Regions from separate parts of the Homo sapiens genome. Here region 2 is linked to region 1. A link means that fine-mapping ties the variant in region 1 to the expression of a gene that starts in the linked region. Tissue or cell type: whole blood. Region 1 holds a variant in brackets; the other region holds the start of a gene. All regions are shown on one strand. Distances are between the middles of the regions.

Region 1 (8,099 bases):
GAAGCTAGCACAGAGAGGTGACAAGCCTTGTCCAACACCCCTAGCTGGTAAGCGGTGAAGCAGATTCAAACCCAAGACTATCTGAATCCCAAACCCATCCCCTTATCCTTCAACTTCAACCTGCTGCCACATGCCAGTATTAGCCCCAGGAATCCTGCCCCTGTCCCTGAGTTAACCCAGTCCTCACTTGGTTATTACTCCTCACTGCAGGGCCCATGAGCCCCACTCCCTAGCCCCAGACCCAATCCCCATTTCCATATCACCTGCTTACCTCCATCTTCACCCAGAACCCATGTGTCTTGCTCTCACATGCCCTCTCTCTTCCCCAAACCTCAGAGGCCACCCCAGCCCTCCAGCCACCCAAGTGCACTCACTGGCCATGGACAGGAGCATGGCAAGGGCAGCAAAGATCCCAGCCAGGCCCTGGCCGCTGAGGAAGAGGGTGCTGTAGGTGGAGGGCATGGTGCCCAGCTGCCCGAAGAGGCTGCCCTGTAGGACTGCACTGAAGGCTGTGGAGGACAGGGATGGGGGCTGCTGCTCAACTAGGCAAGACTCAGAGGCTCCCTGGAGGAGGTGCCGGCAGGATACACAGGGGACTCTGGACAAGGTTGCGCAGGTGTGAGCTTCCCTAGGGACTCTGAGCACTCGGGGGCAACACCCGCTATTCAGTCCTCTTCTGAGGTGCAGCCATTGGTCTGTGGGGCTGTTGACCAGGAGGCCTGCTCCTAGGTCACCGGACAAGTGACTCTTCCCCTCCCTGTGGGCCTCAGTTTCTTCACCAGGGATATGAGCGACCATGATGCTGTCTGCCCTTCTCGGATATGCTGGGCCCTTTCAATGATGAGGCCAGGCTGAAGCCCTGCATAGGCTGGCTGGAGAGGGGGTGGAGGTGCTCACAGTTGATGAAGCAGACGGAGGCCATGGTGATGGAGAAGAAGGGTCCGGGGCTCATGTCCACCTTGACCAGCGCTGCTGTCAGGGCAAAGAGCAGCAGTATGGCCAGCAGGCTGCCCAGAATGCGCACCGTCTCCGGGACGCTGCTCAGAAGCAGGCAGAGTGCATCAGTGGGGCCCAGGCCAGAGGGGGCTGGGGAAGGAGGCTCGACACCTGGGGCTGGGCAGTAGGGCTGGGGGGCAGGGGGCGCAGGGGAGGGCCTCAATGAAGCTGCCTCGGCAGAGGGCGCAGGAGCCAGGGCAGGCCTCTCACCACTGGTACAGGAAGGAGTTGAGGAGGGTGAAGAGCAGCAGGGGCAGCTGGGACAGCAGCGTCACCCAATTGTTGAAGTTGAAGGCATCCTCGGGACCCGTGTGGTTGGTGCTCAGGATCCTGGCTGTGCTGTTGCCGGCCCCGGCCAGTCGCGCCTGGAAGTACTGCCAGGTGGGGAGGTGGTGGAGGGTCAGCACCTCTCAGCCTTCCCCCGCTGCCTTCCCCCTCACTTGTGATTGCTTTCTAATGTCTGTGGGGACTTGTCTGCCTTGTCCTTGTTCTGTTCCCAGCAGCCGGCACACAGTCGGAGCTCCATGAATGTGTGCTGAGTTAAATGGCTGAAGTCTGGGACACAGCCTAAGCATTAAGAGCCCCCAGCAAGAGCCTCGATCCAGCCTTGGACGGCCCCTCCTCTTCAGTGCCCTGGTTCCAGCCCCCATCCCCACTCCTGCAGCAGCTGCTACATTCATTCATTCCACGGGTATTTATTGAGCGCCTACTGTCAGCCAGGCTTTGGCCTAGGTGCTGAACAACTGCATTCTCTCTAGAGCACATAGCCTGCCACTCCTCTGCTTAACCTCCTCACTCCTCAACACCCCGATTCATGCCTCCCTATTGCCTGCAGGGCAAAGCCCCAAATGGAACAGCTCTTCAGAATCAGATCCTAGTCTCCCTTTGTGCCCCATCTTCTGCTCCATCCTGCTAAGCTCCAGGCAGCCCTGGCTGTGGATCTCCCTCTAAACAGGCTGATCGTCTCTTGCCTGCCTGCCTTTGGCATGGCTGTCGCCTCGGCCTGGAATGCCCTACTGACCACACCCCTCCACATGCACTTTGCCTACCCTACTCCCAATTTACAAATCTCCTCTTCCATGAAGCAGAAGGAACTTTCTCCCTCCCCTGGGGACCCACTGCACTCTGCTGCAAGCCTGGAATGTCACGCATCATGTTACATTATTAATAGCTCTTTGGCCCCCTCTTGCTCTCAAGCCCAGGGGCTGATTCATCTCTGGGTTTCCAGGGCCCAGCACAGAGCCAGTACCCAAGAAGCATTTGCAAAGTTGTTGCAGTGAATACAGATGAATAACCCGGTCCCAAAGACAATGCAAACCCCACATTTCTGCCTTCCCTGAAGAGCCTCCCTGCTGTTTCCTCCTGTGTCCCCAGTGCCTGCTCCACAGTAGATGCACATTAAAAGTTTGTTGAATGAGGCTGGGCACGGTGGCTCACGCCTGTAATCCCAGCACTTTGGGAGGCCGAGGCGGGAGGATCACGAGGTCAGGAGATCGAGACCATCCTGGCTAACACGGTGAAACCCCGTCTCTACTAAAAATACAAAAAAAAATAGCCGCGCGTGGCGGCGGGCGCCTGTAGTCCCAGCTACTCGGGAGGGTGAGGCAGGAGAATGGCGTGAACCCGGGAGGCGGAGCTTGCAGTGAGCCGAGATGGCGCCACTGCACTCCAGCCTGGGCGAAAGAGCCAGACTCTGTCTCAAAAAAAAAAAAAAAAAAAAAGTTTGTTGAATGAATGAGTGAATGAATGAAATTCATGGTATTTCAAAGAAAATCAAACGTTCGATAACCGACTTTTGGGGTGACTGACTCAGGAATAACGACACACAGAGAGGGGTGGCAGCGCCTTTGCTCATTCCAGACCCTGTGGGCTGGTGGCCTTGCCCCTCTGAGATGTGGGCATTGCTGAAGTTCTACTTTCCTAGCCACGGGGGAAGCATTCCCCTCTCCGAGCTTCAGCCCATAATGAGCTCAACGAGGGGTCACAGGTGCGCGGTGAGGAAGCGCCCGCTAAGCTTCATCCAAAGGGCTGGAGGGAGGGGTGCTGGCTGTGGCCACGAGGCTGCCACGCCGCCAGGAGTCTCACCGGGATGGCGGTGATGAAGAAGTTCCAGGGAAGGAGGGTGCCCAGCCCCAGGATGAAGAAGCTGATCCCGACCAGGTGGTAGCTGTGGGGATCGGTGGGAAGGTCACCCCGAGGACGCACCCGCCTCCGCAGGCCCTCCCGCCTCCCAGGCCACCCCCTCCGGAGCGGACTACAACCCCGATCACCCCGGTTCCGGCGGCCGAGGGAGTCGGCTGATGGGAATTGTAGTTCGATCCGGTCTTCTCTGAGCCTCGGAGCGCCTTCAGGGAGCGGGTCTGCAACGCCCCCGGCCACTTGCAACGCACCCGGGCCCACTCACCTGTCCCGCGGGGCGTCTCCTCGCGCCATGGCCGCCGCGGCGGATGCGCCTGGGGTGAAAGGGGCAGAGAAGCCGCACCTGCACCTGCGCTGGGGCGGAGGGCCGCAGACCGGTGGGGCGGGGGGCGGGTCTCCCCAGATTCCGGTGCAGGGCGGCTGGAGTCGCACAGGTAGCCTCGGGCGGATTTCGGCGTGTCTCGCGCTCCGCAGGCTGGGACCTGGGCTCCGCCCCGAGGCGGGGACAGAGGGTCGCGCCACCCGTCTCTCCTTCCCCCACCCGCCTCAGGGACTCGACTCTGGCTCGGGCCCCGCCCCACCTAGGGGCCTGCGGAACCCGCCCGCTCCCCGCACAGCCCCTCCCCGCAGCCCCCCGTCCTCTCCGCGGGGGCGGGTCCCGGATCCCTGCGGCGGAGGGGAAGGCGGGGGTAGGGACGAGGTGTAACCTCACCTCCACCCCCCGCCGAGAGCTCTGTAGGGGCAGCACTGGTGCGGGGCTCTTCCCGCTTCGTCAGCTCCGAGGTGATGCCAGAGCCGCTCCTGCGACCCCTAAAGCTGGAACCCACCGGGGCGCC[C/A]CCTAACTAGGGAGCCGCTGCGGAGTCCCCGCCCAGAGCGTAACCCGAGCCGGGCCCGGGCGGGGGAACCAGAGCTGCCACAGGTCGCCCGCGATCCTGGCGGGCTTCGCCGCGCTGGGTCCCCGGGAGTGCCTGGAAAAAAACAGCATTACTTTCAACTCCCTACTCTTTTTCTGTTAAAAAAAAAAATTTGAAAAGACTATAAATCATTAATTTGCTCCTACTCTCATAATCTACGAATAGGTGTGGGTTCTCTGCAATCCCCGGGCGTATCGGGGACGCTGGAGAAGTGAGAGGCTCCAAAACACAAACTAGTTTTTTTGAGACTGAGTGTCGCTCTGTCGCCCAGGCGGAAGTGCAGTGGCGTGATCTTGGCTCACTGCAACCTCCCCCTCCCAGGCAGGTTCAAGCGATTCTGGTGCCTCAGCCTCAGGAGTAGCTGGGACTACAGGCGCATGCCACCACGTCCGGTTAATTTTTGTATTTTTAGTAGAAACGGGGCTTCACCAGCTCTACTGAAGAGGTGGCCAGTCTAGTCTCGAACTCATCTTTTGACCAGGCTGGTCTCGAACTCTTGACCTCAGGTGATCCGCCCGCATCGGCCTCCCAAAATGTTGCTATTACAGGCGTGAGCCACCACGCCCGGCCACAAACTATTTTCTTAAGCAATGACATTTTATAGCCATTCCCAGGTTGCTTATGTTTTTCCTCCAGCCGACTGAGAGTCTGTAGGGGCAGAGGCTGTGCTTATCTGGTCCATTGGTTTACTGGCAGCATCTAGCGCCGTTGAGTGATAAATGGGTGGTTGCAGTAAAATGCAGGTGATTTTAGGGAGAACAGAGACAGCATTAAATTACACCGAAAGAGAAAGTTATTCTTCCCATTTTCTTTCAAGCCTCTGAATATGTCAAGGGTGTTAACAGGTTGCTAACACTTCTTAATCTGCCTTCCCATCCCTTCCCCTCAGTTAGCCTCAGAGGGTCTGCTGACAATTTTATCAAAAGTTATTAACTTGTATTTTTCTTATATTTATTTTTATAGCAACTTTATTTTCAGGGCTACTCATACTGGTTTCCTATTTATGATTATGATATCAACTTTTCTTTGAAAAATCAATTTATTTATGGAAAATGAGTTATTTAAAGAAAAGCGAGGCCGCTGGTGCAGCACAGCTATGGCACAGGTTGTGAAGGAAGGACTTGAGAATGGAGGCTAGGGAGCACTGAATTTGTTGAGACAGTGAAGGGAGAGGATGAGGGCATTTCAGGGAGAGAACAGCCTGTCCCAAGACAAGGGACAAGAGAGTGCTGACACATTCTGGGACATACAAATAGATCCCTTTGGCTGGCATTGGTGGGAGGAGGGGACAGAGCCTCTACAACAGCCAGGCTGGTTATGGCAAGTCTGAGGGCTGATTAAGGAGTTCAGATTTCATTTCAAAGCACAGACGGTCAGCTGGAGCCGATTCCATCGTCCTTGTAATAAATATTTTGTTACTATCCTGCAATGAAACTCATATAAAACAAAACCTACCTATACACAATAACATTTGATGTCGAGATAATATCCTGATTTTACTGCAGATGAATCATAAGGGAAATTATTTAGTAATAACATGGTGTGTGTGAATGTGTTAATATTCATGGTACATGAAGCTGTCAAATGCTTGCCCTTCTTTCTAAAACTGCAGTGAATCCACGGCTACAAACTCACATGCGATACAGGCATGCAGTGAAACTGGCCACTCAGAGACCCACTAGTTTGCCAGGATTTTCTTTTCTTTTCTTACCTTTTTTTTTCTTTTCTTTTTCTCTTTTTTTTTCTTTTTTTTTTTTTTTTCAGACGGAGTCTCTCTCTGTTGCCCAGGCCAGAGTGCAGTGGCAGGATCTTGGCTCACTACAACCTCTGCCTCCTGGGCTCACACGATTCTCCTGCCTCAGCCTCCTGAGTAGCTGGGATTACAGGCGTGTGCCATGATGCCTGGCTAATTTTTGTATTTTTAGTAGAGACAGGATTTCGCCATGTTGGCCAGGCTGGTCTCGAGCTCCTGACCTCAGGTGATCTGCCCGTCTCAGCCTCCTAAAGTGCTGTAATTACAGGCATAAGCCACTAAACCCAGCCTCTTTTCTTTAAAAAAAAAAACAATTTTTTTTTTGAGACACAGTCTTGCTCTGTCACCTAGGCTAGAGTGCACTGGCGCAATCTCAGCTCACTGCAACCTCTGCCTCCCAGGTTCAAGTGATTCTCCTGCCTCAGCCTCCCCTAGTAGCTGGGATTACAGGCACAAGCCACTATGCCCGGCTAATTTTTGTATTTTTTAGTAAAGATGGGGTTTCACCATCTTGGCCATGCTAGTCTTGAACTCCTGACCTCGTGATCCACCCACCTCAGCCTCCTAAAGTGCTGGGATTACAGGCGTGAGCCACAGTGCCCGGCCTAAAAAAAAACTTTTTTCCTCATTTATGTTTTAAATTTTATTTTTATTTATTTTATTTTATTTTACTTATTATTATTATTTTTTAAGACAGAGTTTTGCTCTTATTGCCCAGGCTACAGTGCAGTGGTGCAATCTTGGCTCACTGCAAACTCCACCTTCCGGTTTCAAGCAATTCTCCTGCCTCAGCATCCCAAATTGCTGAGATTACAGGCGCCCACCACCACGCCCAGCTAATTTTTTTGTATTTTTAGTGGAGACAGGGTTTTACCATGTTGGTTAGGCTGATCTCGAACTGCTGACCTCGTGATCCACCTGCCTCGGCCTCCCAAAGTGCTGGGATTACAGGCGTGAGCCACCGCTCCTGGCCCTATTTATTTATTTTTTTGATACATAATAGATGTACATATTTTCAGGGTGTATGTGATAATTTAATCTATTCATATAATGTGTAAAGATCAAACTAGGACAACTGAGATGTCCATCACCTTAAATATTTGTCTTTTCTTTATGCTAGGATGTGATTTTCTTAAATGTGACCAAGTCCTGGTCAAGTTCCAAAGAAGTCAAAGGGCAGCTGTCCGTCAACACAGACAGTAGCTGTGTTACTGAAGAATGCTGTGTATATTCAAGCCTTGCAAATAATACATTTTGTCTAAATGTAAAAAGGATTTAGAGTCTAGGCTCAGAAAAATTATCAACATGGTTTTAAAAAATAAATAATAGATTTTATTTTTAGGTTGTACTTAATCTAATGTTAAACCTGTGTACTGAATTTCATTCAACATTGATGATGATGATGATGATGATGATGATGATGATGATGATTATTATTATTATTATTATTTGAGATGGAGTTTTGCTTTTGTTGCCCAGGCTGGAGTGCAATGGCGTGATCTCGGCTCACTGCAACCTCCACCTCCCAGGTTCAAGCGATTCTCCTGCCTCAGCCTCCCGAGTAGCTGGGATTACAGGTGCGAGCCACCACACCTGGCTAATTTTTGTATTTTTAGTAGAGACAGGGTTTCACCATGTTGGCCAGGCTGGTCTCGAACTCCTGACCTCAAGTGATCCACCGGCCTCAGCCTCCCAAAGTGCTGAGATTACAGGCATAAGCTACTGGGCCCAACCTGGCTTCTTTCATTTATATGTGTGCTTAAGGATCCTGCATGTCTTTTCTTGGCATGATAATTCATTTCTTTTTTTTTTAATTTTTTAAATTTTTGAGATGGAGTTTCACTCTTGTCGCCTAGACTGGAGTCCAGTGGCATGATCTCAGCTCACTGCAACCTCTGCCTCCCAGGTTCAAGTGATTCTTCTGCCTCAGCCTACCAAGTAGCTGGGATTACAGGTGCCTGCCACCATGCCCAGCTAATTTTTGTATTTTTAGCAAAGACAGGGTTTCCCCATGTTGACCAGGCTGGTCTCGAACTCCTGGCCTCAAGTGATCTGCCTGTCTCGACCTCCCAAAGTGCTGGGATTACAGGCATAAGCCACCGCGCCCAGGCAACACATTTATTTTTATTGCTAAATAATACTCCATTGTATGAATTGCCATGGTTTGTTTATCCATTTACCTATTTCAAGACGTCTTGGTGGCTTCCATGTTTTGGTGATCACAAATAAAGATGCTATACACAATTGTGTGGAGGTTTTTGTGTGGACATAAGTTTTCAATTTATTTGGGTTAAATG
Region 2 (8,099 bases), 760 kb before region 1:
GATCTGTGAGTCTCCTGTCATTTTGTTGAGGCAGGAGCGTGAATCAGAACCCCCCTTAGAGTGGGGAGCAAGAGGGAAGCTCTTGGTGAGAAAAGAAGCCCAGCAGGTACCACAGGCCCCTAGTGCCCACATCACACTGTGGCAAGTGCAGCCACTCCCAAAGCAAAGACTCCAAAAGATACCTACCAATGCAGCTGGAAGGGAAGAGAAAGGGTGGGGTCCAAGAAAGTGATGGTTCTTGGCCACAAAGGAGGAGCTTGGGGTAAATGTAGGCGTGGATGGTCAGACTTGGCAGGGGCTCATGGCTTTAACCCAAATGGGGCCACCGTACTTGGTACAAAGAGGAGAAGCAGCAACTTGCATATCTCTCACCAGGACAGGAATGGCTCAAATGAGAGAAGTTTTCGAGGAATAGAAAGAGGACAAAGTCATAGAGTCATGAAGGGTCTGAAGGGCCCCTCTACTTTTCAGGTTACAGCCAACTGCACTGTGGAAGAGAAGCAATATCAAGTCAACCATGTTTCTGGACCCATGTCAGGGCACACCTCTCAGCTCTCCTGCCCTGTGTGACACGGCTGTCATGGGGGCAGCATAGGGCACAGGGGGTGGGGCAGATGGGAAGGGCACCTAATACAGCCTGGTGAGTCAGGGAAGACTTCCCAGAGGAGGTGGCAGAACCAGGGTGCTCATTTTTCAGGGCTTAAAGCAACAAGCCCTGATCCTGCTGCTGGCCAGGCCACCTGGGCCTTGAGGAGGCATCTGGCACTGCTGCCAGCTGTCCCCGCTGCCCCACCGTCCTCAGCCCCCACAGCCCCTGGCTGCTTGGCTCTGTTTCTGTGTCCTCCACCTTCAGCCATTTCGGCGCTGGTGCTTCTCAGAGCATGACCTCTCCTCAACCTCTGCCCACTGCCCCTGGCTGACTCAGCCTCTTCCAGGTACCAGCTCCCTCTCCCCACTGGCATCTTCCACATTTGCAACTCCAGGCCAGACAAATTGGTTCAGCAGCTCTACCTGATGTCCAGGTGCCCTCCATGACCACCTTTACTATCCCGGCATGCCCAGTAGATTTTCCTGCAATTTTTCCTAATCCAGAGAATGGTCTCAAAATCTACCCACTCCTCTGAGCCAGACCTTGGAGCTGAGTCCTGAACACTTCATCAAGCTGAGGATGACAACAAAACCCTCCTCAGATGGCTGTCACGAGCATGAAACAAGACCACACTTTTAAAGTTTTTGCATGGGGGCTGCCACCTGGCAGAAGCATCCTAAAGGCCAGTTGTCCTAAAGCACTTATCGTATCTCCGCCCTCCTCTCCCTCCTCTGTCACTCCTTACTGCCAACTTCAAAACAGCCTCTGGTCTGGCTGCTGGAGGCGGGGACCTGAGCATTTAGCAAGCCCCCGACGACAAGCTCATTCCAAAGGGGAAACACAGCAGGCTGGGGCAGTGGGTGGAGTGGAAATGGGCACCTCCCCTGGTGCCAGGGCCCACCTTCCCCTTTGAAGACCAACACTTGCTGCTTCTTGGCCTGTCTCTAGCCACTTGTGGCACCCCAGACTGGCAAAGTGCTGTTCCAGTATCTCAGGCCGGGTGGCCACTCTCCACCTTTTTCAGGTGGGGAATCTGAGGCCCAGAGAGGGGCAACAACTCACCCAAAGTTTCAGGACTTCTTTGTACTTGTGGTCTTTCTGCTACCTCCCCGCTCCTGGCTCTGCCAGCTGCTAAGCCCCATCCTCTGCTTTCTCTCCAAGCTCCTCTCTGTGCTTTCAACTGTCCCAACTCGAACTGCTGTTCTGGTGTCTGATGTAGATCCCAGGCATGGGAGGTCAGGGGTCACCCAGAGGAGAATGGGCCAGAGACCCCGAAACTGGGGGAAGCTCTCAGTGCCCCTTTAGGGCTCCCTGGCCTCTGATAGGGACCTGGCCACCAGCTCCCTCCCTGGGCTGGCCTCTGTGGGGCTTGGGAGTGGCCTGGGCAGCTCACACCTCTTCCGCTTTCCTCCCGTGGTCCCTACTTCTCCTTTCTGGGAGGCCTGGGCCAGGTCTCCCACTTGGGAGGGGGAGTCCTTTTGGGGAGAACTGGGGGAGGTCAGGCCCAGGCCGGGCTGGCTGGTCAGTCCTGTGACTCGTGGGCCTGGAGAATTCCCCCTCCTCTCCCCGCCAGGCTTCCTCACAAGGCCCCCATTGTCCAGGAAAATCATGCCATTGTTTCCTGCCTGTGCCCCCCACCAGCCCAGGGACTCCCCCCACCCCAATCCTGCAGACAGCAACTTGGGCCTAGGACTGGGGTCTCCGAGGTTAAATGCCAGGCTCAGGGAGGCTGAGGGCACCTTGCCTGCCCTTTACCACCACCTCCCAGACTCTGAGAGGGAAGCAGGGGAACTAGAGGGGAGTAGGGGAGCAGTTCCAGGCTCCTTCCTCCCGCAAGTCCTCCACCCCAAGCTCTTTCCTCCCCTGCAGGCAGCTGGGCTAGGGAGGGAGCAGGGGCTGGAGCAGGGACAGGAAGCCGGCTCAGGGGCAGCAGGAAACGCAGGAAGCAGTGGGGAGGGTGGGGAGCAGGGGCCTGGGCTATTGTTCCATTTTTTCTGGAAAGAAAACGGAGGAAAAACAGAAGATGGGAGTCCCCTCCCCCTGTGCCTTCGGGGAATCCCCCTCAGATTGGGGCAGGTAGCGGGGGTCCCTAGATAGTTAGAGCCCAGGGTTGAGGCTGAGAGGTGGGAACCGCACCCTACCAGGGATGAGAAGAGTGGGTAGGATGGTTGGCAGGCCTCTCCTGGCTCCCCCAGTCCTGGCAAGAACTTGGATATCTGGGGCTCAGCACTCTGTTTCCTGCAAGCCCCTTGTCCATGGTCAGCCCAGGCCAGGAGGCTCAAAATATCCACGTTGACCCCCCTCTAAGAATGTCTCATGCTTTTCCAGTGACCACACTGAGCCTGGCCCCTCCTGCATTTCCTACTGCTGCTCTCCAGCCTGCACTCTGGGCTCTAGGAGGCCCCTGCTCCTGGTCCCTGCTGTGTGCTGGGTCCTGCTTCCATGCCTTCTCTCTCTAAATGCTGCGTGCACCAGGAAACCCTCTGAAGCTGTCACTCACTTCTCTTGGGCCATGATGGGCAGCGTGTCGGGGGCTTGAAATGATGGGAGATGGAGTCTCCCTTAGCCCAGCACTCCCATCCCAAGCACTGATTTCAGGCTAGGCCCTCTTGGCGATCCAGCCCTCAAATGTCCATCTCCATGGCTGAGGACCCGCTGTGGGTTGGGGATCGCAGGTCGGGCTTGCCCAAGCTGTTGAGCTGTTTCACTCTCCCTTTTTACAGATTCTGAAATTGAGGCTCCGAGTTGGAGTAACCAGCTAGAGGTCATGAAGCCAGGGAGGGCTAGGCCAGAATTCCAGCCCTGGCCTTAGCCTTGACTGCCAAGGAGGGCTTCCCTCTCTGAGATATCTGTTCTGGAGGAGCTGCCCATGACGACGGGAGGGGAGGACAGAGCACCAACTCCACGAACATGAATTTAGGGGAGGAGAAGATGAGGAGCACGAGCTTCCAGAGGACTTCCTTGAGGTGGGAGCCATGGCTGGGCAGGATGCTTATGGCCCACCTGAGAGATACCAATTTCTTAACTTGTCCAAACCGCAGCTGCAGGCTGGGGTCAAGGACTTCTGAAGCTGGCGCAGGAAGACTCTGCTGGGTGCCTGGGGCTCTGTTTGGGGGCTAGCTTGAGCCCATGGGCACCCCTGGTCAGCTGGGACCCCCTAGGGTGGGAGCTCCTACCTGCAGTAGACCCTAAGCTAGGCTCAGTGGAAGGTTGGGAGCAGGTGTGTACCAGAGCCATGCCACCCCCAACCATGCCCCCAGAAACTCACTGTTGTTGGACTTGAGATCACGGTGGATGACGGGCACCAGGGCCTCGCAGTGCAGGTAGTGCATCCCACGGGCAATCTGCACAGCCCAGTTGACCAGCACATGGGGAGGCACGCGCCGCCCGGCCAGAGCTCGGCTGAGGGGCCCACCGGCTGCATACTCCATCACCAGGCACAGGTTGGGCTCCTCCAGGCACACAGCCTTGAGGGCAATGATGTTGGGGTGTGCCAGCATGGCGAAGAGCCGGGCCTCCTGGCGAACGCTCTCGGCTGTCACACTGATGTCCTCATCGGGGTCCTGGCGAGCTGCCTTCACAGCCACCAGCTCACCTCGCCAGCTGCCCCTGTACACCTTGCCAAAGCCTCCAATGCCGATCACCTCCTCCAGCCGCAGCTCCTGGAAGCTGGCCACCTCGCAGGGGGGCGGGCCGCCACCCCGAGACACATAGTTGGACGGGAAGATGCCCACCTGGCCACCCACCTGGCCCGCCCACCAGCCCTCGTCTCCTGAGATGGCTGCGTCCCGGGACAGCACCTCCACACGGTCACCCTTCCTCAGGGCCAGCTCATCCTGCCCACTGGGCTCGTAGTCGAACAGGGCTGTCCACACCGGGTTGGCATAACCCGCTGCCTTTGGAGACCCCTCAGGCCGGCCTCCTCCACCGCCCCCACCACCCCCGCTGCCACTGCCATTCCATGACCCTAGAGGGCTCTTGAGGAAGAGGCTCTTCAAGGGCTCCATGGCCGGGAGCCGGCGCTGGGATGTGTGGAGGACCTTCTCTGGGTGCCCGTGGTCCCCACCCCCGCTGGCTGCCAAGGCCCTAGTCCCGGAACCTGGGCATCCGGGCCCTGGCCCTCAGCCCCAGACCCACGCCTCTCTGGGGAGCCAGGAGTGTTGTCTCCCGGCCCCCCGCATCTCGGGCTTCTGGAGGAGGGCACCCAGGGCAGTGTGGTCAGGCCGGGGGGGTGGGGCCCCGGGGCCTCCGGCGCCTCACCATGGCTAGCTTGGAGGGACCCGAGCTTCCCTCGGTTCTGGAGCAGTCCTGGGAGCCTGGCTCCGGCCCCCGCCAAGTGTAAGGTGGGGCCTTCAGGGGCAGCGCCTCAACTCCGGTTGGGTCTTTTTGCGCAGGGGGTGGAGGGAGCGTCCGCAGTTGGGCCGAGACTGCCTGTTCCTGGCCCCGTCTCCTTTGGCCCCGACGGCTCCGACCCCGCTCCCTTCTTCCTCCTCCCTTTGTACTTTGGCCCCGGGGGCGGGAGGCAGAGGTGGAGGGTGGAGTTTCACTTTTTTCCGCTCTTCTCCCTCCTGCAGGAAACAGCATCAGATGACGCGGGCGGCCTGCACCGCTCCCCTCCCAGAGGCTCCAGGCGGGGAGTTCCCGGGTAGGCGGGCCAGGAGAGGCAGAGAGGGAAAGGGCAGAACCAGATCCCCCATCACAGCAGGCTTTTGAGATCTAGAAAGAAAAGCCCCCAGCTGCGTGCTCTGCTGCCTAGGGTGGAGGTTGGTCTCTGCTAAGGATGGGCCATCTCTGCCCTCTGCATCCGCATCGGCGGCAGCAAAACGGGGTTACAGAACCACACTTGGGAAGGGGGTGAACCCGAGTCTGGTCTTGGCTGCGAAGTTGTGGGACTGTGCGATCCATCGATTCTGAGCCTCATTATTTTCTTTCTTTTTTCTTCTTTTGAGACGGAGTCTTGCTCTGTCGCCCAGGCTGGTATGCAATGGCGCAGTCTAAGCTCACTGCAACCTCCGCCTCCCGGGTTCAAGAGATTCTCCTGCCTCAGCCTCCCGAGTAGCTGGGACTACCGGCGCGTGGCACCACGGCCGGCTAATTTTTGTATTTTTAGTGGAGACGGGTTTCACCATGTTGGCCATGCTGGTCTCAAACCCCTGACCTCGTGATCCTCCCGCCTCGGCCTCCCAAAGTGTTGGGATTACAGGCGTGAGCCACCGCGCCCGGCCATTCTTTTCATATATGATATGAGGACGAGAAAGCTCTGCCTCGTAGAGCTAGTTGGATGGGGTGGGGAAGACTGGAGGACAGACGGAACTGGCTGCACCTCAAGCTCTTGGAGTGGATTGCCTAAGGCTCTCTTCTTCTCCTCACCTGGGAAACAATCCGCTTCTTCATATCCCTTCCCCATTGGCAGAAACCTGAGACTTGTCCAGAACTTTGCCCAGGATTGGATTCAGAATAGCTGAGTCGCCCTCACAACTTCTGGATAGGGCTGCCCCAATTGCTTTGAGCCTGTCACTTTAAGAAAGACGACGCTATCCTATTTCGACTATTCCTGCCTGTTACGGAAGGTTGTTCTCTACACCCTAGGTCTGAGCTCTGACCCGGAAGTAGACGCCGCTGGGAGCGAAATCGGTCGTGACGTACGAGGTCCAGCATTAAAGGGGGCGGGCCGAGAGGGGCGTGCTTCGGTAGTGCAGAACTCTCGCTGCTACTAGGGGAGTCCACGCCTCCACCTTTTCCCCGCCTCCTGTAACTCATTGGAAGAGCTGTGCGCCAATTACTTTGCCGTTACCCAATGGCTACTCAACTGTCTCTTTGGTTCCGCCCAGTCGTCTACCCTGGGTTGGCAACGCCTGGGTCTACGCATGCGCCCAAACGCTTTTACGCTCGAACTTGCTTTAGTCCTGGAGTCTGCGCACGCCCAAAGGGCACCCCTCGCGTCCTACCGCGCCATCACCTTTCTGCGCTTGCGCATTCATGCCGTCAAGTTTTCCTTTTCCGGGTCCCAATTGGAATCGTTGGGCGCATGCGCCACTGCAGGCTGGCGGTTCGCGGCTCCTTCTTCCGGCCTCCTCCTTAGGCCGGCACCAGCAGAAGCCGGGCGAGCGCGGAGCCCCAAGCAAGTGACCTGCGACCCCGAAAGTGGACCCCAGATCCTGGGGTTCTCCCTGGTCCGGAGACTAGGGAGCTGTCGCCTGCACCCCGGGAGCACCCACCCCACGACCACCTCTGGATGCCGCCGACGGGTACCCGGCCCGTGCCCCGCGCCTGCCTGCCGGCTCGGCCCCTCGGAGCAATTCTGGGCCAGGAGTGGGGACCCGGACCCCGCCCCTGATGCAGCCCCACCCCCGCGTCCGGGCCTTGCACCACTGACTGTCCCGGCCGGCCCCGCCCCCTGCTCGCACCCTCGCGCGGCCGAGCCCCCCTCCCCCGCTGGGGGAGGCCATGGCGTGAGCGTGAGGCCGGGCCCCGGGGCCCTCAGGCGCCAGACGGGGCATGGGCCGGGGGCCGCCCCCATGAGGGTCCCGGGAGGGGGGGCGCGGGCAGCAGCGGCGGGGCCATGGGGTCGCAGGTGTTGCAGATCCTGCGCCAGGGGGTGTGGGCCTCGCTCACCGGCGGTTGGTTCTTCGACCCGCACCAGAGCACCTTCTCCAACTGCTTCCACCTCTATGTCTGGATCTTCCTGCTCATCTTTCCCTTCTTACTGTACATGGTGAGACGCCACGGCCACCTGTAACTCCAGCCGGGAGAGGGAGGGCAGCCTGGCAGGGATTCAGGGCAGTGCCCTGGGCTCTGGGACGTGGAGAGAGAGGAATCACTGCAGAGTTTGGGTCTGTGTGGAAGAGGGGCCAAAGTCTTCCTTTCTTGGATCGAGTGACCTTGAACCCTACACTTAATCTCATCCAGCTAAGCAGAATACAGAGCCCTTTGTCGAGGTCTGTGTACTGGTTGTGTGGAGAGGTGATGAAATTTTCTTGTGAGTCTGTGAATCCCAGCTATGATGTTGATGGCAGGTACATCCTGTGGGGGCGAGGCTTTGTGAAAAGGGACCTGGCTTACTTTCATCTTCAGGTCCTGCCTCCCAGCTTGATGGTGGCCGGCGTGTACTGCCTCGTGGTGGCTGTCATCTTTGCTACTATCAAGACTGTCAATTATCGGCTTCATGCCATGTTTGACCAGGGCGAGATCGTGGAGAAGCGCAGCTCTACCATGGGGGAGCTGGAGGAAGAGCCTGCCCAGGGGGACAGCAATCCACCCAGGTGGGTGGGGTAGGGGCTGTGCTGGGGATTGAGGGTTTTTGGTGCCTGGGCCGGAACCTTGCAGGGTGGAGTAGGGGCTTAGGGAACATTGGCTCTCTGAGTGATTGTGAACACTTGTCCTGTGTTAGCCCTGGAATTGTAAAGTGACTTCTGAAAAAGAAGCAGTGACAAAGATGGGAGGAAGTAGCATACACAGAGGAGAGGTTAGCTCAAAGCTGCTGCTCTTTTTCACCGCCAGGGACCCCGGA

The links. PIP is the estimated chance that this variant, and not a neighbour inherited with it, causes the effect.
Region 2: MAP3K11 starts here. The variant in region 1 is fine-mapped to the expression of MAP3K11 in whole blood (INTERVAL, PIP above 0.99).

Annotation. Positions count from the first base shown.
Region 1 is chr11:66,368,163-66,376,261 of GRCh38, forward strand. It overlaps SLC29A2 (solute carrier family 29 member 2), which reads right to left and starts at 3,598. Exons shown (of 12, transcript NM_001532.3): 1 at 3,401-3,598; 2 at 3,082-3,163; 3 at 1,207-1,370; 4 at 898-1,037; 5 at 375-509. The coding sequence starts at 3,429. RefSeq lists a silencer at 3,294-4,053. The variant C/A (reference allele first, on the strand shown) is at 3,972.
Region 2 is chr11:65,609,161-65,617,259 of GRCh38, forward strand. MAP3K11 (mitogen-activated protein kinase kinase kinase 11) reads right to left here and starts at 5,061. Exons shown (of 10, transcript NM_002419.4): 1 at 3,858-5,061. The coding sequence starts at 4,596. It overlaps PCNX3 (pecanex 3), which reads left to right and starts at 6,616. Exons shown (of 35, transcript NM_032223.4): 1 at 6,616-7,304; 2 at 7,664-7,851; 3 at 8,090-8,099. The coding sequence starts at 7,152. RefSeq lists enhancers at 3,496-4,383, 5,101-5,530, 5,272-6,158, 6,041-6,090, 6,151-6,240 and 2 more and silencers at 4,671-4,850, 6,861-7,110.